Homo sapiens: one gene and its partners. Changing the gene in region 6 together with the main gene of any one other region gives a genetic interaction. Each region holds a gene or a part of one and is shown on either strand. Other genes may lie near its edges.

The links.
Region 1: changes in ATR (region 6) and POLD2 are lethal when combined (synthetic lethality), as found in Homo sapiens cells (one large-scale study listed by BioGRID).
Region 2: changes in ATR (region 6) and RAD9A are lethal when combined (synthetic lethality), as found in Homo sapiens cells (one large-scale study listed by BioGRID).
Region 3: changes in ATR (region 6) and RPA1 are lethal when combined (synthetic lethality), as found in Homo sapiens cells (one large-scale study listed by BioGRID).
Region 4: changes in ATR (region 6) and CLSPN are lethal when combined (synthetic lethality), as found in Homo sapiens cells (one large-scale study listed by BioGRID).
Region 5: changes in ATR (region 6) and POLH are lethal when combined (synthetic lethality), as found in Homo sapiens cells (one large-scale study listed by BioGRID).
Region 7: changes in ATR (region 6) and PRIM2 are lethal when combined (synthetic lethality), as found in Homo sapiens cells (one large-scale study listed by BioGRID).

Annotation. Positions count from the first base shown.
Region 1 is NC_000007.14:44,114,180-44,117,364, reverse strand, and holds the end of POLD2 (DNA polymerase delta subunit 2), read left to right. Parts: intron 1-117; coding exon 118-232; intron 233-349; coding exon 350-548; intron 549-854; coding exon 855-935; intron 936-1,092; coding exon 1,093-1,250; intron 1,251-1,471; coding exon 1,472-1,599; intron 1,600-1,968; coding exon 1,969-2,070; intron 2,071-2,419; coding exon 2,420-2,580; 3' UTR 2,581-2,685; downstream 2,686-3,185. Other genes in the region: AEBP1 (adipocyte enhancer-binding protein 1 precursor), read right to left, coding at 3,104-3,185. UniProt on the Homo sapiens protein: Accessory component of both the DNA polymerase delta complex and the DNA polymerase zeta complex.
Region 2 is NC_000011.10:67,394,986-67,398,910, forward strand, and holds the end of RAD9A (cell cycle checkpoint control protein RAD9A), read left to right. Parts: intron 1-730; coding exon 731-840; intron 841-926; coding exon 927-1,036; intron 1,037-1,125; coding exon 1,126-1,190; intron 1,191-1,277; coding exon 1,278-1,415; intron 1,416-2,193; coding exon 2,194-2,401; intron 2,402-2,478; coding exon 2,479-2,574; 3' UTR 2,575-3,425; downstream 3,426-3,925. Other genes in the region: PPP1CA (serine/threonine-protein phosphatase PP1-alpha catalytic subunit), read right to left, coding at 3,550-3,660, 3,737-3,871. UniProt on the Homo sapiens protein: Component of the 9-1-1 cell-cycle checkpoint response complex that plays a major role in DNA repair. The 9-1-1 complex is recruited to DNA lesion upon damage by the RAD17-replication factor C (RFC) clamp loader complex.
Region 3 is NC_000017.11:1,875,005-1,878,504, forward strand, and holds part of RPA1 (replication protein A 70 kDa DNA-binding subunit), read left to right. Parts: intron 1-656; coding exon 657-789; intron 790-2,207; coding exon 2,208-2,310; intron 2,311-3,500. UniProt on the Homo sapiens protein: As part of the heterotrimeric replication protein A complex (RPA/RP-A), binds and stabilizes single-stranded DNA intermediates that form during DNA replication or upon DNA stress.
Region 4 is NC_000001.11:35,738,979-35,742,478, reverse strand, and holds part of CLSPN (claspin), read left to right. Parts: intron 1-2,949; coding exon 2,950-3,114; intron 3,115-3,221; coding exon 3,222-3,343; intron 3,344-3,500.
Region 5 is NC_000006.12:43,614,185-43,617,603, forward strand, and holds part of POLH (DNA polymerase eta), read left to right. Parts: coding exon 1-373; 3' UTR 374-3,419. UniProt on the Homo sapiens protein: DNA polymerase specifically involved in the DNA repair by translesion synthesis (TLS). Due to low processivity on both damaged and normal DNA, cooperates with the heterotetrameric (REV3L, REV7, POLD2 and POLD3) POLZ complex for complete bypass of DNA lesions.
Region 6 is NC_000003.12:142,554,734-142,558,233, reverse strand, and holds part of ATR (serine/threonine-protein kinase ATR), read left to right. Parts: intron 1-1,658; coding exon 1,659-1,851; intron 1,852-2,094; coding exon 2,095-2,357; intron 2,358-3,500. UniProt on the Homo sapiens protein: Serine/threonine protein kinase which activates checkpoint signaling upon genotoxic stresses such as ionizing radiation (IR), ultraviolet light (UV), or DNA replication stalling, thereby acting as a DNA damage sensor.
Region 7 is NC_000006.12:57,380,130-57,383,629, forward strand, and holds part of PRIM2 (DNA primase large subunit), read left to right. Parts: intron 1-1,901; coding exon 1,902-2,039; intron 2,040-3,500. UniProt on the Homo sapiens protein: Regulatory subunit of the DNA primase complex and component of the DNA polymerase alpha complex (also known as the alpha DNA polymerase-primase complex) which play an essential role in the initiation of DNA synthesis.

The DNA of each region.
Region 1 (3,185 bases), on a different chromosome or scaffold from region 6:
AGGTGAGAATTCACCAATGTGGTTGTGGAGAACTGGCTTGTTTTGCCCGTTGGGGTGACTGGAAGGAGTGGTAGCACCTGGGGCTCCCTGCTCAGGCCTGATGCCACTGCTCCCCAGGGACTGTCCTGGCTGTGTTTGGCTCCGTGAGAGACGACGGGAAGTTTCTGGTGGAGGACTATTGCTTTGCTGACCTTGCTCCCCAGAAGCCCGCACCCCCACTTGACACAGATAGGTGAGCAGCAGTTCTCGGGAGCTGGAACCAGCTCATGGTCAGTGGAATCTTTGAGTTGCACCTAGGAGGGGCTGCCTCCCTTCTCGGCACCCTGGAGGACCCCACCTTCTCCCGCAGGTTTGTGCTACTGGTGTCCGGCCTGGGCCTGGGTGGCGGTGGAGGCGAGAGCCTGCTGGGCACCCAGCTGCTGGTGGATGTGGTGACGGGGCAGCTTGGGGACGAAGGGGAGCAGTGCAGCGCCGCCCACGTCTCCCGGGTTATCCTCGCTGGCAACCTCCTCAGCCACAGCACCCAGAGCAGGGATTCTATCAATAAGGTATGGAGCCCACCTGGCTGCATTCAGCCCCAGCCCAGGAGCCTGCAAGCCTGTAAGACCCTCCTTCCCCAGGGCGAGTAGGGTACCCTGTGAGGTCTCGCAGGTCGGTGGGAAGCGCCCTGCAGTGACTCTGGGGCCTCCTGCAATGGGGCTCCTCATGCCCAGGCCCTCGCTGAGGATGGTGGGAGGCTTGAAGGGAGTGAGGGTCTATGGGACAACAACTGCATCTTCCAGCTGGTGGGGCTCTACTCTCCTCTGAGCCTGGGACTCGCCTGGGCCTGATGGCCTTCTGGGCTTCTATTCCAGGCCAAATACCTCACCAAGAAAACCCAGGCAGCCAGCGTGGAGGCTGTTAAGATGCTGGATGAGATCCTCCTGCAGCTGAGCGTGAGCGAGCTGGGGGCTGGAGGGGTGATGGGGATTGCAGTCTTCAAAGCTGCCACTGGGCAACAGAAGGCAGGCAGGAGGGCAGGGGGAGTGGCCGGAGTTGGTGTAGGGGGCTCCTTCGGGGCCCTGTGAGCTCTCCCTGCCCTGTGCCTTCCAGGCCTCAGTGCCCGTGGACGTGATGCCAGGCGAGTTTGATCCCACCAATTACACGCTCCCCCAGCAGCCCCTCCACCCCTGCATGTTCCCGCTGGCCACTGCCTACTCCACGCTCCAGCTGGTCACCAACCCCTACCAGGCCACCATTGATGGAGTCAGGTAGCTGGCACAGCCACACTTCAGTCTGACCCAGCCTTTTGCCTCAGGAGGCACAAAGAAGGGAGGGGAGGGAGGGCCCAGGAAGGTGGCAGGGCTGCAGAGGCCCACCTAGCATCTGTTCCTTCTCTCTGGGGCATCCCCACAAGAGCGCCAGATGAGCTCTGGGCTGACCACTATGGGTGGCACCCAAAGCCAAGAGTCAGCTGAGCTTTGCCTTGCAGATTTTTGGGGACATCAGGACAGAACGTGAGTGACATTTTCCGATACAGCAGCATGGAGGATCACTTGGAGATCCTGGAGTGGACCCTGCGGGTCCGTCACATCAGCCCCACAGCCCCTGACACTCTAGGTAACAGGCTCAGCCATACAGGGTGGGAGCAGAGGGCCAGGAGGCCTGGCAGGACCCTGAAGTGCACAGGGTCCCCCTGTGGGTTTGCACTTGCCAGCATTGCTGAGAACTGTCTGAGGAGAAGTTCAGAGGCTTGGCACCTGCTCTGGAAGCTACTCTGGAATCTTAATTCTAAGGCCAATGGCTGCCCACCCCAACGGGCAGCAACAGCAGGGCCAAGGTCTTGTGACAATGTCTGGAGGTGCCCCTATTGTCACACTGGGGGTCTCCTACTGGCCTGCAATGGGAGGAGGGGCTGCAGCCCCACATCCTGTGCAGAGTGCTAGTGCTGAGGCGGAACCCTCCTCAGAGCTGCCCCTTCTCCTCCAGGTTGTTACCCCTTCTACAAAACTGACCCGTTCATCTTCCCAGAGTGCCCGCATGTCTACTTTTGTGGCAACACCCCCAGCTTTGGCTCCAAAATCATCCGAGGTAATTTTTGTCTTCTGGGGGCCCAGGCTGATTTGCTGATTTGCTCTCACCTGGGGACAAGGTTCACAGAGAAGAAAACCTGCATTGTGGAGTCCCCCTGGCCCTTGTGGGATGGACAGCTGAGGTCTTCTGCACAGCTGCCATTTCACTGTGGGAGCCAAGCTGCCTCGCCAGCTGGGCAGGGACTGGAACGGCTCCCAGCCTGTGTGCCTCTCAAGGCTAATCTCTGGTCTCCTATTGTCACTGCCCCACTGTGTGCCAATGGGGACTCCTGTTTATTTCTGGCAGCTTCTCTTTGAGGCAGGACTTACTTGGAACCTACAGTGGGTCCTATGTGACTTCTTTGCAGGTCCTGAGGACCAGACAGTGCTGTTGGTGACTGTCCCTGACTTCAGTGCCACGCAGACCGCCTGCCTTGTGAACCTGCGCAGCCTGGCCTGCCAGCCCATCAGCTTCTCGGGCTTCGGGGCAGAGGACGATGACCTGGGAGGCCTGGGGCTGGGCCCCTGACTCAAAAAAGTGGTTTTGACCAGAGAGGCCCAGATGGAGGCTGTTCATTCCCTGCAGTGTCGGCATTGTAAATAAAGCCTGAGCACTTGCTGATGCGAGCCTTGAGCCCTGGGCACTCTGGCTATGGGACTCCTGCAGGGGTGCCCACAGTGACCATAGCCCATGCACCCACCAGCCGGTCTCCCTCCTCCCCATCCCTGACACCTCAGAATGTGAGCAGTCCGTGCCATGAGCTTGTTTTATTGGAGTGACCTTGGCTCCCTCCCTCTGCCCCTACTCCAACACTGCAGCAACCCCATCTCTTACGAGACTGGCAGGTGGAGCAGGAGCCTCTACACAGCCTCTGGCTCTTAGGTCCCAGTCATGTTTGCACCCCCTCAAAGGGGCAGGACCAGCCCTTCCTTTCAGTGTCCATACCAGGGGCCTTCCATGTGCTGATGGGTGATGTGACTGTGGTCAGCAGGCTTGGGAAGTGCTGCTGCTGTAGCTTGAGTTGGGCTGGGGTCTTGGTAGGACGCTGATCTCAGAAGTCCCCAAAGTTCACTGTGTAGGTCTCTACTGTTGTGAAGGGGAATGCCTGGCCAGTGGCTATCTCCTCCTCTTTC
Region 2 (3,925 bases), on a different chromosome or scaffold from region 6:
CTGGAGTGCAGTGGTGCAATCTTGGCTCACTGCAATCTCTGCCTCCCGGGTTCAAGCGATTCTCCTGCCTCAGCCTCCCGAGTAGCTGGGATTACAGGCATGCACCACCACGCCCGGCTAATTTATATATGTTTAGTAGAGACGAGGTTTCACCATGTTGGCCAAGCTGGTCTCGAACTCCTGAACTCAAGTGATCCACTGCTTCGGCCTCCCAAAGTGCTGGGATTACAGGCATGAGCCACTGTTTTTTTTTAAATCCTTGCGCAGGGGCCTTGCTCATCTTTTGCATGCTTCAGTTTTAGTGTATGTGCTGCCGAAGCAAGCACTCTGTCTCATGAATAATTTCAAATATATGTAAAAGCAGACGCAGCTCCCGTCCCCACTTGACTTGAAACAATTTCCAGATGTGATTTCATCTGTATGTCAATGGGTATCCTTAGAGGATAAGGATTTCAGGGCTCTTTCTGAAGGCCGGGTTTGTAGGGTGGCCTGAGTGCCACGTCCTGCCTCTGGGCCCTCTCCCTGGTCTGCATGGTCAGGTGCCGCCTGCCAGGTTTGAGCAACCACTGCAACCAGTCCCCTCCCTGCCACCTTCTCTGGGCCTCATCCACGGTGCGCTAGGCCTGCGCACATCCGTGCGTGTGCATGTGTCACCCCCACCTCAGGTCCTCCGAGAGCAAAGCCCTGGGCAGGGCCAGGCATTTCGGGTAATGCTCCACCCTGTTCACAGGGTTCTGGGGGAGGCTGTTCTGCCCTTCTCTCCTGCACTGGCTGAAGTGACGCTGGGCATTGGCCGTGGCCGCAGGGTCATCCTGCGCAGCTACCACGAGGAGGAGGCAGGTGAGGGGGCTGGACGTGGCCTGGGACAGCAGAGTGGCAGGTGGGAGAGGGGCGGGGCCCAGGTTACTCCTGTTCTTCCCCAACAGACAGCACTGCCAAAGCCATGGTGACTGAGATGTGCCTTGGAGAGGAGGATTTCCAGCAGCTGCAGGCCCAGGAAGGGGTGGCCATCACTTTCTGCCTCAAGGAATTCCGGGTGAGGTTCCTCCCAGGCGCTCGCCGTCCTGTCCTCCCTGCCCAGCTCAGCCCAGCCCGGGGCCTCACCTGCTACCTCTTTCCTCCCAGGGGCTCCTGAGCTTTGCAGAGTCAGCAAACTTGAATCTTAGCATTCATTTTGATGCTCCAGGCAGGTAGTTCCCAGCCTTGGGACAGGGAAGGGCTCTGGGATGGCAGGAGCTGAATGGGATGACCTAGCTTGGGCCCCCTCCCCTGCCCAGGCCCGCCATCTTCACCATCAAGGACTCTTTGCTGGACGGCCACTTTGTCTTGGCCACACTCTCAGACACCGACTCGCACTCCCAGGACCTGGGCTCCCCAGAGCGTCACCAGCCAGTGCCTCAGCTCCAGGCTCACAGGTGAGGGCACCTCCCCCCAACTCCTCCTCTCTCCATGTCTGTGCACTCCAGCCTGAGACTGCAACTCCTAGCTTCTGCACCTCCCCGCAATGTGTTCTCTCCCGCCCCTTCTCTTTCTATCAGGCCCCAGCCCCTAACCCTATAGTGCTCACAGCTGCCAGCCCTGCAGACTCAGCCTTCTCGGTTAGCTGTACTCAGAGACCCCTCCCACCCAGGGAAGCATCCCCAAGGCCCTGCCAGCTTCCTTCTCTGGCTGAGGCCGCCCCTCTGAGCCTCCTCCCAGGCCAAGGAGGGAAAGGGCTGCTGGGAGGCAGGAGCTGCCTGGGCTGGGGGAAGCAGGTGGCTGGAAGGGCAGGTGGGCTGGGGAGGATGGCCCAGTGCACTTTCAGCACAGGAAGTTGGGGCTGGCCCCCAGCCCAGCCTGTCCCTGGGCTCCTGTGCTTTCCAGCTCCTGTCCCCTGGGAAGGTGGGGGCTTGGGCTCCATGTGGCCCAGTTCATAAGACTTGCTGCTCCTCCCTCCTAGCTGAGCTAAGGTAGCCCCCGGGATGCCTCCCTCAGGCCCCTACCTGAATTCTGATCAAAGAGATTCCTGGCCCACCCCCTCCAGGAAGTCACCACTTAACCCCTGCATCCTCTCCTCTCCAGCCAAATCAGGAAGTCATAAAACCAAGAGATCTCCAGTGGTCGGGGGCCCCAGAGCTCCCTTCGAGCCCTCCAAGGTGGGGCCCTGCCTCTGCTCCCCCAGTCCCCTCCCTGATACTCCGATTCTGCCTACAGCACACCCCACCCGGACGACTTTGCCAATGACGACATTGACTCTTACATGATCGCCATGGAAACCACTATAGGCAATGAGGGCTCGCGGGTGCTGCCCTCCATTTCCCTTTCACCTGGCCCCCAGCCCCCCAAGAGCCCCGGTCCCCACTCCGAGGAGGAAGATGAGGCTGAGCCCAGTACAGTGCCTGGGACTCCCCCACCCAAGAAGGTAGGGACTGGAGGTGGAGGCAGGGGTGGGAGGTAGGGAAGGGAGCAGCCTCCAGAACTCACTTGTTCTCTTTCCAGTTCCGCTCACTGTTCTTCGGCTCCATCCTGGCCCCTGTACGCTCCCCCCAGGGCCCCAGCCCTGTGCTGGCGGAAGACAGTGAGGGTGAAGGCTGAACCAAGAACCTGAAGCCTGTACCCAGAGGCCTTGGACTAGACGAAGCCCCAGCCAGTGGCAGAACTGGGTCTCTCAGCCCTGGGGATCAGAAAGGTGGGCTTGCTGGAGCTGAGCTGTTTCACTGCCTCTCGCAGGCCCCAGCTGGCTGTCACTGTAAAGCTGTCCCACAGCGGTCGGGCCTGGGCCGTTATCTCCCCACAACCCCCAGCCAATCAGGACTTTCCAGACTTGGCCCTGAACTACTGACGTTCCTACCTCTTATTTCTCATTGAGCCTCAGGCTATACTCCAGCTGGCCAAGGCTGGAAACCTGTCTCCCTCAGGCTCACCTTCCTAAGGAAAATGTCATAGTAGGTGCTGCTGGCCCCTGGTGATCCAGCTTCTCTGCCAATCATGACCTGTTCCTTCCTGAAGTCCTGGGCATGCATCTGGGACCCCCGTGGAGCTGACAAGTTTTCCTTGCTTTCCTGATACTCTTTGGCGCTGACTTGGAATTCTAAGAGCCTTGGACCCGAGTGTGTGGCTAGGGTTGCCCTGGCTGGGGCCCGGTGCCGAGACTCCCAAGCGGCTCTGTGCAGAAGAGCTGCCAGGCAGTGTCTTAGATGTGAGACGGAGGCCATGGCGAGAATCCAGCTTTGACCTTTATTCAAGAGACCAGATGGGTTGCCCCAGGATCCGGCTGCCAGCCCTGAGGCCAAGCACGGCTGGAGACCCACGACCTGGCCTGCCGTTGCCCTGAGCTGCAGCCTCGGCCCCAGGATCCTGCTCACAGTCACCGCAGGTGCAGGCAGGAAGCAGCCCTGGGGGACTGGACGCTGCTATTGATTCATTAAAAAAAGAAAAGAAAAATACACCAAGGCTCCATGTTCCCCGTGACAGGTGGGCCTGAGGGGTCGGGGTGACCCCCCCCCAGCATGGCAGCATGATTTCTGTACAATCAATCCATCATCTGGGGCACAGGGTGGTGTGCGGGGGCTATTTCTTGGCTTTGGCGGAATTGCGGGGTGGGGTGATGGGTCGGCCTCCAGGGTTCAGGCCACTGAACTGCCCGTACTTCCCCTTGTTCTTGTCGGCGGGCTTGAGGATCTAAAAGAGACAGTGTTGGTCAGGCTCATGGGGCTGAGCCACAGGGCCTAGCGGCTCCTTTCTTCCCCACACTCACCTGGAAAGAGCACATGAGGGTCTCGTCCACACTCATCATGGCGCCAGCATTGTCAAACTCGCCACAGTAGTTGGGAGCTGAGAAAAGTGTCACCAGCTGCCGCTTGGCAAAGAACTCGTAGCCGTCTTCTACCACCTGGGCGAGGATGGGAGCAGTCAGTCCCGAGCGCAGGCACGGCCCTCCCCTTCC
Region 3 (3,500 bases), on a different chromosome or scaffold from region 6:
TTCCCTGTTCTTTCCCAGCGCAGGGCAGCTGCTTAGGTTTGGATTAAGGAGGCGGAAGGGTCTTAGTGGTCACCCACTTAACATATCTTGACCAAAAACTGATTCCTGCCCTTTGCACCCGACGAAACTCATTCTTACAGACTTCATTCTAGACTTGCTAGTCCTTCAGACGCATTGAGATCTGGGAGTTGTCTGGGGATTTGGAGGCGATCTATTTGTGATAGGTCCCTTACATCCTGTCTTTCTTCATGTGACTAGTGCCTTGCCATCAGTTTTACCAGTTACAAAAGTTGATTTTCTTTTTCTCACCCATTATCTTGCCCGTTGAGGCAAGAGAAGTGTTTAAGAGGGCGGCCTTCAGAAACAGCAGTGTCTGGATTCGTCACCATTATTACTTTGACCTCGGGGCTGACATCAGCAAACATAGCAGTGAGCTGCTGTGTGCGCAGCCTTCATCCTAGATTGCTTTTGTAGCCTCCAGCCTCAGTCTCTATTTGATCTGCGTATCTCTTGCATATAAAAAGGAAAAGCTTTGCCTCTCATGTTATATGATTTCACTAGTGGCACCTCCAAAATTTAGAGTTATTGTAAAGCTTACTATAAAAAAGCTAAGTAGAATAGTAATAACTCCTTTTCGTTTGCGTTTGTTTTTAAAGGTTCTACTGTTTCTAAGGCTTATGGTGCTTCAAAGACATTTGGAAAAGCTGCAGGTCCCAGCCTGTCACACACTTCTGGGGGAACACAGTCCAAAGTGGTGCCCATTGCCAGCCTCACTCCTTACCAGTCCAAGTGAGTTGTTGCATAGAGTAAGTTCAGAGTGTACTTATGAAATCGGAGAAGCTATTATGGACTCTTGAGTTATTTATGCGTGAACTTCAGGGTCACCACCAAATACCACCAAATAGAATGGGTTTACTCTTTTTTTTTTTTTTTTTTGCTGAGGAGGAAAGGGGTACAAATTGTGGCAAACTTTTAACTCTTGTTGGAAAATATAGTAACAATAGCAATCTGCCATAGCCTGTGGGGTTTCATTCATTTTGAAAGAATTTGAAATTAAAAATACTTAATGCTTAATCAGTTGATAGTCTTATGAGTAAAAATAAATATTTCTGATAATTCAAAAGGCATTTAATCTTCTCCTATAAACAGGTGACTTCGTCTTTGGTTTAGTTGGCTAAAATAATCTGCACTATTTGTATTAAACACATGAACATACCCTGAACATAAATTTCTTTTATATGACTTTTTTCCACCAAAAATTAATTTGAAGCCGGGCGCGGTGGCTCATGCCCGTAATCCCCGCACTTTAGGAGGCTGAGGCGGGTGGATCACCTGAGGTCGGGAGTTTGAGACCAGCCTGGCCAACATGGTGAAACCGTGTCTCTACTAAAAATACAAAAATTAGCCAGGTGTTGTGGAGCACGCCTGTAATCCCCGCTACTCAGGAGGCTGAGGCAGAAGAATCGCTTGAACCCAGGAGGCGGAGGTTGCAGTGAGCCAAGATTGTGCCACTGCCTTCCAGCCTGAGTAACAGAGTGAGATTCCGTCTCTCAAGATAAATAAACAAAATAAAGTAATTTGAATAGTTAAAAATTAGAGTTCTTTTTTCAGAATCCTTCCAGATATGTTTATATTTATTCTTCAATACTCTGTAACGTAGGAAAGATATTTTTCCCTGTGAAATTATAAGTGGGGTACCTAATGTGCCCTGTGCCTCCTTTTTCCATGCTTCTCTCTAAGGTCATGCTGCTTCAGTGTGTTCTTCCTGATGGTCCACCAACATCGTGTATTCTATTCAGGGTGTGTTACGAATGAGACAGAAGTGTAACACCAGTTATATCAGTTCCCATAATTGAAAACTGTGGCAAAATATAATTGCTGGTGTTACTGTATTTTCCAGCTTAGAACCTTTCATTAAGGGGATATGGTTGCCTTGGTGATGCTTTTTGGAGAAGGGAGAGAGTTTATAAATTTACTTATTTGACAGGAGAATGAGTTAGTATTAAATCACTTTGCATGTTTTACTATTTGCTTATTCTGTAAACTGTCAAACCCATGTGTCATCTTGGGGTTTTAATTAGCTGGATTAAAATACAGGTTGGAAAACGGAATATGCGTAAGACGAGAAAGGCTGTAGGAAGATGATTTCTTACTTGATCTTTTCCAAGGAAGACCCCATACACTAATATGATCGATTTGGTTTGTAGGTGGACCATTTGTGCTCGTGTTACCAACAAAAGTCAGATCCGTACCTGGAGCAACTCCCGAGGGGAAGGGAAGCTTTTCTCCCTAGAACTGGTTGACGAAAGTGTGAGTGTTTGTCATGCTGGGGAGTGAGGGCAGTGGGCTCGCCGGGAAACAGAAGGCTCAGCTCTGCGGAGGGCAGTGGGCTCGCTGGGAAACAGAAGGCTCAGCTCTGCGGAGGGCAGTGGGCTCGCCGAGAAACAGAAGGCTCAGCTCTGCGGGCCTATGAGGTGAAGAATAATAGTAGGCCAGAGAGAAGCATGATTGTTATTGTGCTTTTCCCTCTGTCATAGTCTTTTGATGCTGTCTGGAGTAGAGGGTTAAGGTCATAAATAAAATCTTTGATCTTAAATGACAGCGTTTGTAGCAGTAGAAAGTAGTTTTCTAAATATATAAGTAGCCTCCTGGGCAGGAGAAGCTGGAAACAGTCTGATTTGCTGGCAGGTGTACTGGAAGCACTGGGAGGTGATGCCTGCTTGTGAGCGCCGTGGAGCTTTGGGACACAGCAGAAGGCACACAGTTGTGACCTCGATATGGGAGTGGTTTTGTGGGAAATGGGTTCTGACTGTGCAGATTCTCTATTTGCTTTATTTAAACTAAACAAAACCATGACGATGAGACAAAATTCCTATGCCATGGAAGTACGACAGTCTTGATAGCTGTTAATCAGTCCATTCGTTTTGCTAATAATTCCTGAAATTGCCGGGTGTGGTGGCTCACGCCTGTAATCCCAACACTTTGGGAGGCCAGGGTGCACAGATCACTTGAGGTCAGGAGTTCGAGACCAGCCTGGCCAACATAGTGAAACCCCGTTTATACTAAAAATACAAAAATTAGCTGGGTATGGTGGCAGGTGCCTGTAGTCCCAGCTACTTGGGAGGCTGAGGCAGGAGAATCAATCGCCTGAACCAAGGAGGTGGAGGTTGGAGCCAGCCAAGATTGCACCACTGCACTCCAGCCTGGGCGACAGAGTGAGACTCCATCTCAAAAATAATAATAATTCCTAAAATGTACTTCAGCATTCTTTTCAAAGTGCTGCAGATTTCCTGTTTGTTCAGACTCCCAAATAGGGAGAAAAAAATAGATGTTTTTTTTGGAAGTTGATATAACACCCAAAATGTTTGTGTGATGGCAGAATCAATATTAGAACCTAATTTTTTTTTAGAAATTATTGCTCTAATGTATGGTGGTTGGCTAAAATTTCTTGTCCACTTGTAAATTTTGGCTGACAGAAAAGCAAAAGTGAAAATCAGATC
Region 4 (3,500 bases), on a different chromosome or scaffold from region 6:
GAGGCAGGAGAATTGCTTGAATATGGGAGGCGGAGGTTGCAGTGAGCCAAGATTGCCCCACTGCACTCCAGCCTGGGTGATAGAGCAAGACTCCATCTCAAAAAAATTATCTTATGAGTGGGTACTATTATTCTCCTCATTTTACAGTTGAAGGAACTGAGCCTCAGAAAGATTAAATTTACCCAAGATCACATAGCTAGAAGGCAGCAGAGGCTGGATTCAACTTAGATTAGGTGAAATCTCCCCTAACAGTCAGTTAATAGTTTGCCACTTTTTAACTTAAATCCTCCTGCCTCAGCTTCCCAAGTAGCTGGGACAACAGGCATGTGCCACCACACCTGGCTAATTCTTTCTATTTTTTGTAGAGATGGGGCCTTGCTTTGTTCCCAGGCTGGTCTTAAACTGTTGGCCTCAAGTGATCCTCCTGCCTCTGCTTCCCAAAGTCTGGGATTACAGGCATGAGCCACCAGGCCCAGCTTTTTTTTTTTTTTTTTTTTTTTTTTTTGAGACGGAGTCTCGCTCTGTCGCCCAGGCTGGAGGGCAGTGGCATGATCTCGGCTCACTGCAACCTCCGCCTCCCGGGTTCAAAGCGATTCTCCTGCTTCAGCCTCCTGAGTAGCTGGGAATATAGGCACGTGCCACCACACCCAGCTAATTTTTGTATATTTAGTAGAGACGGGGTTTCACCATGTTGGTCAGGATGGTCTCGATCTCTTGACCTCACGATCCACCCGCCTTGGCCTTCCAACATGCTGGGATTACAGGCGTGAGCCACCCCACCTGGCCGGCCCAACTCATTTTTTTGATATGCTGTTCTGGTCATGAAAGTAAAATATTTATTTTAGGATATTTAAAAGAATACAAACTGGGTGCAGTGGCCCACGCCTATAATCTCAGCACTTTGGGAAGCTGAGGCGGGTGGATCACCTGAGGTCAGGAGTTCGAGACCAGCCTGGCCAACATGGCGAGACCCCGTCTCTACTAAAAATACAAAATTAGCCAAGCGTGATGGCCAGTGCCTGTAATCCCAGCTACTCAGGAGGCAAAGCTGGAGAATCGCTTGAACCGGGAGGTGGAGGGTGCAGTGAGCTGAGATTGTGCCATTGCATTCCAGCCTGGGCGACGAGAGAAACTCCATTCTCCCCGACCCCCGCAAAAAAAGAATACAGAAAGATATAAATAAAAACTTATCCATGTCCACCATCCAGGATATAAATGAAAGTTAGTTTGTTCCCCTTAATCTTTTTTATGCATATATTTTTATATAGTTGAGATTTGTACAATCTTTCTATATGTATAATTTTGCATCTTTTTTTTTCTACTTAGCATATCCAGAAACATTTTCCTATGATGTTAAAAAAAGTTTTATAAAGATAATTCTAATAGGTATTTAATATTATATTGTATGTGAATGATTTGGAATTCACATATAGGACATCATATTGATCCCTATTAGATTTATATGGTTGCTTTTATCCCATCATTTCATTCTATTAAGATTCACTTTGGGTTCTAATTTATCACCTATCAAATTAACTCTCATACAGCTTTAGGTTATCCATAGATTTTTCTAAGGTAGTGGTTCTTCTCTGCAGAGCTCTTTGTTCAAATAAAATCTTTTAAAGAATGACAGATAAAAGTTGAACTGTTCAAAGATGGTAAGTGGGAAGTTTGGGAAACTTAGTGACTAGTGGCCTCTGAAGGAATTTTCCAGGAACTCTAGGATTTAGAACAACTTAGCTTTAAGAAAATACAGTATAGGCTGGGCGTGGTGGCTCATGCCTGTAATCCCAGCACTTTGGGAGGCTGAGATGGACAGATCCCCTGAGGTCAGGAGTTCAAGACCACCCTGGCCAACATGGTGAAACCCTATCTCTACTAAAAAAACAAAAATTAGCCAGGCATGGTGGCACGCACCTGTAATCCCAGCTACTCGGGAGGTTGAGGCATGAGAATCACTTGAACCCAGGAGGTGGAGGTTGCAGTGAGCCGAGATGGCATCTCTGCACTCCAGCCTAGGCGACAGAGCGACACTTCATCTCAAAAAAAAAAAAAAAGAGAAAATACAGTATAGGTCTTCGATAAAAATCAGTTTTCAGAAAGCCACCAAACTTCTGCCATTTTGGACCACATGGGACCAAGGTGACTTTGAATCCAGGGTGACACCAGATTTATTCTCCGGGGGAGCTGAAGTCATAAGAAGTAACTAGTCGTTTTGATTACCAGGAGCTCTGAGCCTTAGTCTTCCTTCTGATGTGGGGGTCAAGATTTGTTAGGCTGTAAGAAGATCCCAGTTTATTACCTTTCTACACCACACCATCTCTAGTTTGTCTCTTAAAGCTGGTGTGCTCAAATGCAAAATGAAATAGTTTGAACCTTCCAGCAGGTATTCTAATACATGTAAAAGAGATTAAGAGTTTTCTGGCTTTCAAATCACCCAATCTAAGTTGAATCCAGGCTCTGCTACCTTCTAGCTATGTGACCTTGGGTAAATGTAATCTTTCTGAGGCTCAATTCCCTCAACTGTAAAATGAAGAGAATAATAGTACCCATTCCTATGATAATATGTTAATGCCTGTAAAGCACAGTTATTAGCACACAAGACATATTAAGTGATCAACTTTTAAATACAGATGCTCCACATCTTACAATGGGACTATATCCTGATCAATCCATCATAAGTTGAAAATGCACTTTCATATTATCCAGATATAACTCCATCGTAAATCGAGAAGCATACTAAGTGCGTATCACATTCATGTCATCGTAAAGTTGAAAAATCATTAAGTCAAACCATCATAAGTGGAGACTATTACAAAAAAATTTAAATATTATCAAATGTATTATGTTTATTATTATTAGAAGTGACTCTGTTCTGCTTTTCTTTGCTTCCATATTCTGTGAGTATATTCATTGTTGCATTTTCTAATCCTCAAAATTGCTTTCTAGGAGGTTGAGGAAATACCTGGAGGATGAGGCAGAGGTGTCAGGAAGTGATGTGGGAAGCGAAGATGAGTATGATGGGGAAGAAATTGATGAATATGAAGAGGACGTAATTGATGAAGTACTTCCTTCTGATGAGGAACTGCAGAGTCAAATCAAGAAAATACACATGTCAGTATCCCAATAAGCCCTTCTGAGTAATAGGGTACATCTTAAGACAAGCCCTGTAACCAGCCAGAATGGTCCTTGTTTTGAACACCTTATTTCTCCTGTTGCAGGAAAACTATGTTGGATGATGATAAGCGACAGCTACGTTTATACCAAGAGAGGTACCTTGCTGATGGGGATCTGCACAGCGATGGTCCTGGGCGAATGAGGAAGTTTCGATGGAAAAACATAGGTATCTTGGTTGTTGTCTTTAAAAGCAATCAGTTACGGGCTGAGCATGGTGGCTCACGCCTGTAATCCCAACACTTTGGGAGGCAGAGGCAGGTGGATCACAAGGTCAGGAGTTCAGGACCAGCCTGAACAACATGGTGAAACCCCGTCCCTACTAA
Region 5 (3,419 bases), on a different chromosome or scaffold from region 6:
AACTCCTGCAGAGATGGATTTGGCCCACAACAGCCAAAGCATGCACGCCTCTTCAGCTTCCAAATCTGTGCTGGAGGTGACTCAGAAAGCAACCCCAAATCCAAGTCTTCTAGCTGCTGAGGACCAAGTGCCCTGTGAGAAGTGTGGCTCCCTGGTACCGGTATGGGATATGCCAGAACACATGGACTATCATTTTGCATTGGAGTTGCAGAAATCCTTTTTGCAGCCCCACTCTTCAAACCCCCAGGTTGTTTCTGCCGTATCTCATCAAGGCAAAAGAAATCCCAAGAGCCCTTTGGCCTGCACTAATAAACGCCCCAGGCCTGAGGGCATGCAAACATTGGAATCATTTTTTAAGCCATTAACACATTAGTGCTGCCCTCAGGCTTGCCTGTAGGATTTAATATTTTTTATCTTTACAGATCTTTATCTTTAATATTTTATCTTTACAGATTTCCCTGAGAAAGGGAATTATGAAATTTTTAATACAAAAAATAATCCATTTAGGTGCTGAGTTACGGTCCCATCTCTTCACAGGCATGGATTCTAATCCCACTGCTGACAGAGATGTAAAAATTCATCCTACCAGAGTTTTTAATCTTTAGCATTTAGGGAGGCAGTGTCATAAAGTAAAAAGTGTGTGGGCCTTGGAGTCTAAGAGACGTGGTTGCAAACTTAGCTCTGGTTATTGCAATGAGGGCCTTGAACAAGTCATTTTCTTCACATTCTCATCTGTAAAATGGAGATAATACCTTACAGATTATTGCAGATTAATAACAATGTATTCAAATTATGTAACTCGGCCGGGTACAATGGCTCACGCCTGTAATCCTAACACTTTGGGAGGCCGAGGCAGACAGATCACCTGAGGTCAGGAGTTTGAGACCAGCCTGGCCAACATGGCAAAACCATCTCTACTAAAAATAGAAAAATTAGCCAGGCACGTTCCAGGCACCTGTGATCCCAGCTACTTAGAGGCTGAGGCAGAAGAATTGCTTTAACCTTGGAGGCGGAGGTTGCATTGAGCTGAGATCATGCTAGTGCGCTCCAGCCTGGGCAACAGAGCGAGACTTCATCTCAGAAAATAAAAAATAGGGGCCAGGCACAGTGGCTCATACCTGTAATGCCAGCACTTTGGGAGGCCAAGGCGGGCAGATCACGAGGTCAGGAGTTTCAGACCAATATGGTGAAACCCCATCTCTACTAAAATTACAAAAAAAATTATCCAGGCGTGGTGGTGCACGCCTGTAATCCCAGCTACTCAGGAGGCTAAGGCAGGAGAATCACTTGAACCCAGGAGGCAGAGGTTGGAGTGAGCTGAGATCGCGCCACCGCACTCCAGCCTGGGCAACAGAGCGAGACTCCATCTCAAACAAAAACAAGAACAAAAACAAACATAAAGTTGGCACAGAAAAGGGACCAAGTTTAAAAAAGGGTTTTAAATGTAATGAGACTTGCATAGTTAAAAAAAAAAAAGGGATTATTTTTATTTTTATTTTTTATTTTTGAGACGGAGTCTCCCTCTGTCGTCAGGCTAGAATGCAGTGGTGCGTTCTCAGCTCACCGCAACCTCCGTCTCCTGGGTTCAAGCAATTCTCCTGCCTCAGCCTCCCAAGTAGCTGGGACTACAGGCACGTGCTACCACACTCAGCTAATTTTTGTATTTTTAATAGAGATGAGGTTTCACCATGTTGGCCAGGATGGTCTCGATTGCTTGACCTCATGATCCGCCTGCCTCGACCTCCCAAAGTTGCTGGGATTACAGATGTTAGCCACCGATCCTGGCCCCCCCAAAAAAAGGATTTTAAGAAAAACTTCTCTTGGCCGGGCGCAGTGGCTCACGCCTGCAATCCCAGCACTTTGGGAGGCCGAGGCGGGCGGATCACAAGGTCAGGAGATCGAGACCACGGTGAAACCCCGTCTCTACTAAAAAATACAAAAAAAAATTAGCCGGGTGCGGTGGCAGGCGCCTGTAGTCCCAGCTACTCGGGAGGCTGAGGCAGGAGAATGGTGTGAACCCGGGAGGCGGAGCTTGCAGTGAGCCGAGAGCGCGCCACTGCACTCCAGCCTGGGTGACAGAGCGAGACTCCGTCTCAAAAAAAAAAAAAAAAGAAAAACTTCTCTTTAGGCTGGGTGCGGTTCCTCATGCCTATAATCCCAGCATTTAGGGAGGCTGAGGTGAGTGGATTGCAGGAGCTCAGGAGTTCGAGACCAGCCTGGGCAAGGTGGCAAAACCCCGTCTCTACTAAAAAAAATTAGCTGGGCTTGGTGGCAGGCGCCTGTAATCCCAGGTACTCGGGAGACTGAGGCAGGAGAATTGCTTGAACCTGGAAGGTGGAGGTTGCAGTGAGTTGAGATCACACCAATGCACTCCAGCCAGGGTGAGAGTGAGAGACTGTCTCAAAAAAAAAAAAAACAAAAGAAAAACTTCTCTCTAGCTCTGTGACGGGCAGTTCAGATAATACCTTCACCAGATTTACCTGTTTTCAGCTGAAGAATGTGAGATGAAGCCTTGAAACCCTAAAAGTGATATGGTAACTAGGGCAGGTCTTTCTGTACATAAAAGTGACTTAATAAACAGTGAATTTCATACAGGTAAACCCTATTATACCCTCAGTTCTAACCATTGGCCTATCTCTTGCGTTTTGTTCTAATGTAGAATTAGATTGCTACTTGACTAGTTCAGGAACTCTGTTTAGATCTGATAAGTCATAATCAAATCTTGCCAGGCGTGGTGGTTTATGCCTGTTATCCCAGCACTTTGGGAGGCCAAGGCAGGTGGACCACGTGAAGTCAGGAGTTCAAGACAAGCATGGCCAACATGGCGAAACCCTGTATCTACTAAAAATACAAAAATTAGCCGGGCATGGTGGTGGGTGCGTGTAATCCCAGCTAGTTGGGAGGCTGAGGCAGGAGAATCACTTGAACCTGGGAGGCAGAGGTTGCAGTGAGCCGAGATTTCCACTGCATTCCAGCCTGGGCGATAGAGTAACTCTGTCTCAAAAAAACCCACTAGATCATCTCTAGAACATTGCTACTCCCAAGTATGATTTGAGGAACAGCAGCCTCAGTATCACCAGGGAACTTATTAGAAATAGTCTCAGCCTCACCACTATTCCCACTTAATTGTAATCTGATATTAACAAGATTTCCCAATGTGGGTCAGGTGTGGTGGCTCATGCCTGTAATCCCACACTTTGGGAGGCCAAGGTGGGCGGATCACTTGAGGCTGGGAGTTTGAGACCAGGCTGGCCAACATGGGGAAAACCCATCTCTACAAAAAATAACAAAAATTAGGTGTGTGTGGTGACGCATGCGTGTAATCCCAGCTACTTAGGAGGCTGAGGCAGGAGAATCACTTGAATCTGGGAGGCAGAGGTTGTAGTGAGCTGAGATTGTGCCACTGCACTCCAGTCTGG
Region 6 (3,500 bases):
GTTTGTTTTAACTCATCTCTATATAGGACTTCTAAGACTTATTTATATTTTTTTCAATAATTAAAAGAGCAGGTACATTTTTAATAGTTCAGAAGGGGGTTAGATACATAAAAAGTAACACATAAAAGCCTGCCCCACATATCCCATTTCCTTTCTTTTTGTAAAACATTTGCAATGTGTCCTTACATATCATTATCTTCATTTAATAAAATTAGGAAGTATTTGAGAAATATTTTAAAAAGAAGAACAATATACCAAAAATTCTTATACCAACTTCTCAGTTTAAGAAATAGAAACATTAGGCCAGGCACGGTGGCTCACGCCTGTAATCCCAGCACTTTGGGAGGCCAAGGCATGCGGATCTCTTGAGGTCAGGAGCTTGAGACCAGCCTGGCCAACATGGCAAAACCTCATCTCTTCTAAAAATACAAAAATTAGCCAGGCATGGTGGCTCACGCCTGTAGTCCCAGCTACTAGGGAGGCTGAGATACAAGAATCTCTTGAACCCAGGAGGCAGAGGTTTCAGTGAGCCAAGATTGCACCCCTGCACTCCAGCCTGGGCTATTAGAGATATGATGGAAGCCTTTGTCCCTCTATGATTTCATTCCCCTCATTTTTTTCCCCAGAGATTACTACTGTTCTGAATTTGGTGTTGATTGTTCTGTTGAATGTTCTATTACTTTTACTATATATGTATTTATTTATAAATAATATAAGAAATTGTTTTGCTTCTTACAGCTTACATTTTGTTGATCAACACTATCTTTATGAGACTTATCCATGGTGATATGGGTAACTCTAGTTTTTATTTAAACTTCCAAATAGTAGCCAAATTTGGATGGACACTATCAGACCTCCTATTGGTGGACAATCAAGTTGTTTCCAACTTTTCACAATTACAAGCAACATTTAAATGAATATTTTTATAAATGATTCTTTAGTCATTCTAAGTCCTTGCTGTTTGAAAAGTATGCTCCACAGACCAGTAGCATCGCCACCATTTAGGGACTTGTTAGAAATGGAGCGTCTTTGATTCTGCTGAAAGAGCACATTAAAAAAAAAGAGAGAGAAAGAAAGAAATGGGGAATCTTATGCTCCACCCAGACCTACTGATCAGAATCTGCATTTTAACAAGATAGGTGATTCATATCCATATTAAAGTTTGAGAAGCATTATTTTAACGTTTTTACCTACCTAGGAGTAGTATTGTTGGGTTATAGAGTTTGCACATCTTCACCTCTATTCTGCTGTATTGTTCTCCAAAGATACACCAGTTTACACTCCTGTTAGCAGAGTATGAGTTCCACATCCTCACTGACACTTAGCTGACTTTAAAATTTTTGCTATCTAGAAAATAAAAAATGTCATGGAGTTAAGTATCTTAAATTTTTTCTTTTTCCTATCTGGTAGGTATGATTTTCAATTTGCATTTCCTTGATTATTTAGTAAGGTTGTGTATAGACCTTTTTCAGTGCACTTGCTTTATTTTCTGAAAAGGAGCTTTTAATTAAATTAGGTATTAAATGTATTTTAAGTGTTACTTGACTTTTATTTATATATATGTATACACAAATGTTACTTTACTTATATATATGTATATGTGTATACATAAAATTAACATTAGTAGAAATCTTGTTTAATAGACTTAATTTTTTCAGCACCACAGGCACAATCACGATGTGTGTTTCTTCTGACTCTGTTTCCAAGAAGAATATTCCTTGAGTGGAGAACAGCAGTTTACAACTGGGCCCTGCAGAGCTCCCATGAAGTAATCCGGGCTAGTTGTGTTAGTGGATTTTTTATCTTATTGCAGCAGCAGAATTCTTGTAACAGAGTTCCCAAGATTCTTATGTATGTACTAAGATTTTAATTTGAATATATCACTCTATTGGAAAGATCATAATTGTCTGGCTATGTATGCAGGGTTGTGTTTATTGTTGAATATGTAAAGCAAATGTTGCTTTTAGTTTTAGAATTTAACATTTTTTCCTTCTAGGCTTTGTTTTACCAGTACTTTTGTCCCAAATTAAGCAAGACTATTTAGACCACAAAATTAGGCAAGAAAGTTTAGTACTTTTTCTTTTTTTTCCCCAGAGATAAAGTCAAAGATGATTCTGACATTGTCAAGAAAGAATTTGCTTCTATACTTGGTCAACTTGTCTGTACTCTTCACGGCATGTTTTATCTGACAAGTTCTTTAACAGAACCTTTCTCTGAACACGGACATGTGGACCTCTTCTGTAGGAACTTGAAAGCCACTTCTCAACATGAATGTTCATCTTCTCAACTAAAAGCTTCTGTCTGCAAGCCATTCCTTTTCCTACTGAAAAAAAAAATACCTAGTCCAGTAAAACTTGGTGAGTGATTATGACTTATTTAATACTTTAAAACCTATTTAAGCTCTGCTTTTCAAATCAGTAAAAGAATTAGACTGAAGCCTTGAAAAATTACAGGAAGTTACATGCTTTATAGATTCAGTGCTCAGTATTGATTAGTTATAAATGGGATAACTGGTATTAGATCGCATCACAAAACTGGTAGGAGAGGTGATTTTGGGATTTTTCGAATACTCTTGTGATTTGACAGCCTAAATGGGGCATACCTGATGGTTGTTTCAATATTGTAAGATTCAATATTAGATTATCTTCTTTAGTGATACCAGAGATCGTCTTAATGTGCCCCCTGTTACAACCTTGGACCTTGAGAACTTCAAATAGTTAAATTACTTTGCCCAACTGAGGACTATAGAGTGTATCTTCTTGGCCACTTTCCAGTGGTAATGGAGTATAAATTTTTATGAAGTATGAGATTTATACAAATACTTAGAAGATCCATTTGTTTAGGTAGTAAGTTGAAACTTGTTCTGAAGTTTCAATAGAAACTTTCTATTGAAAGCAATAGAAAGTACTCCCTAAATCTTGTAATGTAAGGTTAACAATAAAGCTAAGATCCCCTTGAGAAATGTGCTTTTCTTTTTTTCTTTTTTTTTTTTTCCCCGAGACGGAGTTTTGCTCTTGTTGCCCAGGCTGAAGTACAATGGCGCCATCTTGGCTCACTGCAACCTCTGCCTCCTGGGTTCAGACGATTCTCCTGCCCCAGCCTCCGGAGTAGCTGGGATTACAGGCGTGTGCCACCAGGCCTGGCAAATTTTTGCATTTTTAGTAGAGACAGGGTTTCACCATGTTGGTCAGGCTAGTCTCCAACTCCTGACCTCAGGTAATCTACCCACTCTGTCCCCCCAAAGTGCTGGGGTTACAGGCATGAGCCACCATGCCCGGCCTTTCTTCTTTCTTTTTTTTTTTTTAAGAGACAGGGTCTTGCTCTGTCACCCAGGCTAGAGTGCAGTGGCGCAATCATGGCTCACTGCAGTCTGCATCCTTGATCTCCCAGGCTCAAGTGATCCTCCCACCTCAGCCTCTTGAGTAGCTGGAACCATAGTATGTGCCACTACACCCAGCTAATTTTTAAATTTTTTGTAGAGAGGGATCTCACTTTGTTGC
Region 7 (3,500 bases), on a different chromosome or scaffold from region 6:
TCATTGCACTAATGGTGTGCCAATGTTCTCTCCTGGGCTGTCTCCTTCCACGGACGCATTCCCAACCCTGCTTGGGCTCTGACCTCCCATTACAGGCTGTTTTCCTAATGGAATACCCTCCTTGCATTGTTTGGGTTCTTACACCCTGCACTGGGCTATCCCCTGCCAGGAAACCCTCATCACCCATTTGGCCCAACACTCTGTTTGGATTGCTGCCTTGCGTGGAAGCCCCCTTTCGCTTCTCTTGACCTCTGACATCGTGGTGTCTTGCCTCATGGTCTCTCTGTGATTCCACTGGGCTCTGACATTGTAAGCCTACGTTTTTTCCTATGGGAATGCCCTCCTTAACCTACTCAGATTCCATCATCCTGTGCTTGGCCACCTCAGTTTCCCCTCCCCACTCAGTTCAGATAACTACGTCACATGAACCCTTCCAGAAGGGGAAGAGGGAAGAGTTTAAATTCATTTTACAATTTGATAACTGCAACCCCACAATTTCCTTTGAAAAGAATGTGCTAATTATTATGAGTGAGTGCCAGTAGTTTAAAGTCCTGCCCCATTCCAGCTTCTTCGTTTCGACTGTTGGGCCATCATTCAGTCAGCCTTTCAAGCCTAGAGTGTGGTGATCAATATTTATTTCTCTTACACCACACATTTCCAGTTACTCTGCCTTCACATCATCTTTTGCTTCTACTTGGGCATTTTTGTTTCCACTGTGACCACCTTAATAAGCTAGAATCATGAAATACTATGGCTAAAGAATCCCTAAGGGTCAGTTAGCCTGTGTCTTCCTCCCCTCTCTCAGCTTTACAGATCTGGCTGCTGAGATTTAGAGGCATTCATTAAATTCACCAAATAAGTCTAGTCAGTATCAGAGCTTGGACTAGAACTCATGTTTCTTCCCTATATTATTGCAGTAAACCCTCTTACCTGCTCATCTGATATGTCCTATGTAAGCTACCTATTTGGTGCAGTATCACACAATTTACCCTGTAGGTCTGTTTGACTTTCCGTGTGTGCCCATGAGGGCAGGGACTGTGTTGCAGTTGTAGAAATAGGTAAATTAATTGAAAGTTGTTAAAAAGCACATGATCTGTTTATAGTGTGAGATGTCGTTGGATATACAGAAAATTGTATGCATTTATATTTAATTCTTCCTTAAAACTTGAATGAATAGGCAATTTGGGAATCATTTTTCACCTAATTTTTTAACCTCGTTTTTTAAAAAAGAAAAATTCTATTGGAGAGTAAGAATGATTTTTACAGTTTACTAATATCATACTTCGCTCATCTCTTAGAATTTTAAGATTGTTCATAGGGTTTAAAAATCTAAGATTTTTAAAAATAAATTCTTGGGGCAAATACTTCTTTTAATAGCAAAACTGAATGCTTATTATTTCCATTTCTTAGTACTGAGATTAGCTTTTTCAGTATATTTCTCTGGAGTGAGAATGGAAACATACATGAAGAAATTGGAATTTACTTACAAGTAATTTTCAGCTCTGAATATGTTGTTTACAAATTAGGATTCTCTCTGATGCAGAATACAAAGTGGGATATGTGAGGTGAATGCAACATGTGTAGAAGTCTTGAGTTAAGAGTTTGAAATCCTGGGGATTATGTTTTGTAAATTCAGAGGTTAAGGAATAAAAGTAAGCATTCCAACTTGGCCTTTTAGTGTTACTATTTTTCAAAACATCAACTCTGAAACGAACATATTTTTGTACTGCCACTGTTTGCTAATGCTGTTGAGTTTTAAGGAGGATAAATTAATCATTTTGATATTCTTTTGGCTCTGCTAGGACTAATGAATTTCTTTGTTTATACTTTATACATATGAAGACTTAGGATTTCTTAATGACAGGTGCTGACTTATTTTGCCTGTTTTACTCTTAATTCAGATCCCTTTTGCTGATGCTCTGGATTTGTTTCGAGGAAGGAAAGTCTATTTGGAAGATGGCTTTGCTTACGTACCACTTAAGGACATTGTGGCAATCATCCTGAATGAATTTAGAGCCAAACTGTCCAAGGCTTTGGCAGTGAGTATTTTACTTGATTTCTGTATCTGACATGTTCACACTTTCAGTTATATACCCCTGGTAGTTTTATTCTGTGTTTCTCTAGGAAATAAGTTAATTCAGTTTTCATAATGATATTCAGATTACATATGATGTTGTACTGTTAATCCCAAAATTCCTAGGTTTTTATTTGTTACTATCCATAGTTGGTTTTTAAGTTTTTTTTCTTGATCCTACTAATACCAATGCTGAGTGATTAATTTTGTGAGTAACCTCTGTGGGTTTCTTCATGGTCATGTCTTTTTTCCTTAGAAATAGACTTCGTATATGGCTCTTAACAATTAGTGTGGCCTGTGGTAGATATAACTCCTAGATTTCTGTTCTGAATTAGTATTTGGTATCAGTAGAAGACAATATAGAAGAAAATCTTAAGTACTAACACTGTGATATGCTAGTGCTGCAATGAGTAGCTCCATACTGGGTGAATTTGGAGGTAGCTGTGTTGAACAAATGACATGATCAGTGATTTTTAAGTAGTTTGTTGGAAGTGTGACTCTTAAGTGGTGATATCTTAAAACTATACACATTTTTATATGTAAAACACATATTTTACAGTTGTTGTCTCTTAATCTGAGTCAGTTTTTAATACTTTTTTTGTACCTAATGCAGAAGAAGACTTCAAAGGTTTGTGACATGGCTGTTTTAAACTGTACTGATTATAGTGTAAGCATATGCCAAGCTTTCCTTCTCAGTTAAAAATTGTAGTATTTTCTGATATAAATAAATTTTTATTGACTCTCTGGGGTTACCTAAATATGTATAATTTAGCTATGTCAGCACTTGGGAAGACTAAAATACTAACTCTGTGTTTATTAAATGAAGGAATTTATGAGAACACCTAGCATAACAGGTATTTAGTAACTGTTAATATTCTTTCTCCATTCCTAATCCTGTTATTTCTTTATCCTCATGAAAGTTGATGCTTTTAAATTTTTTCTTTACTTGTCTGTCACTACCCTAGATTATATTCTAGTTACAGCTAAGAATAGTGTCTTTCACCACTGTGGAAGACACTGATACTTGTCTACTGTTTGGCCATTGCTCTTTTATTATTCTTAGTTTTATTCACCCATATTCTCTCTGTTGACATTTTAGACCACACTTCTTTGTGTGAAATAGACAAATATTTTCCAGCATATTGGATAGTTTTAGCTGTCATCTATTAAATGCTGGTGGTGGACCCCAGTCTCCATGACAACCAAAAATATCACCGTGCATTTCAGAAAACTTCTGGCATGTTAATGCTACTATTAATCTGATCATAGTCATTTCCTTCTTACCAAATTTTTAATTTATGCCTGTGACAATGTCATTGTGGCTAAAAAGTATGAGTTCTTTGGGGGCTCCTGAAAAAAGTTTTTCTTGCTAAAAAAAAAAAAAAAAAAAGGCATGTGGGATGAAGTAGTCTTTTTTTCCCCCCTC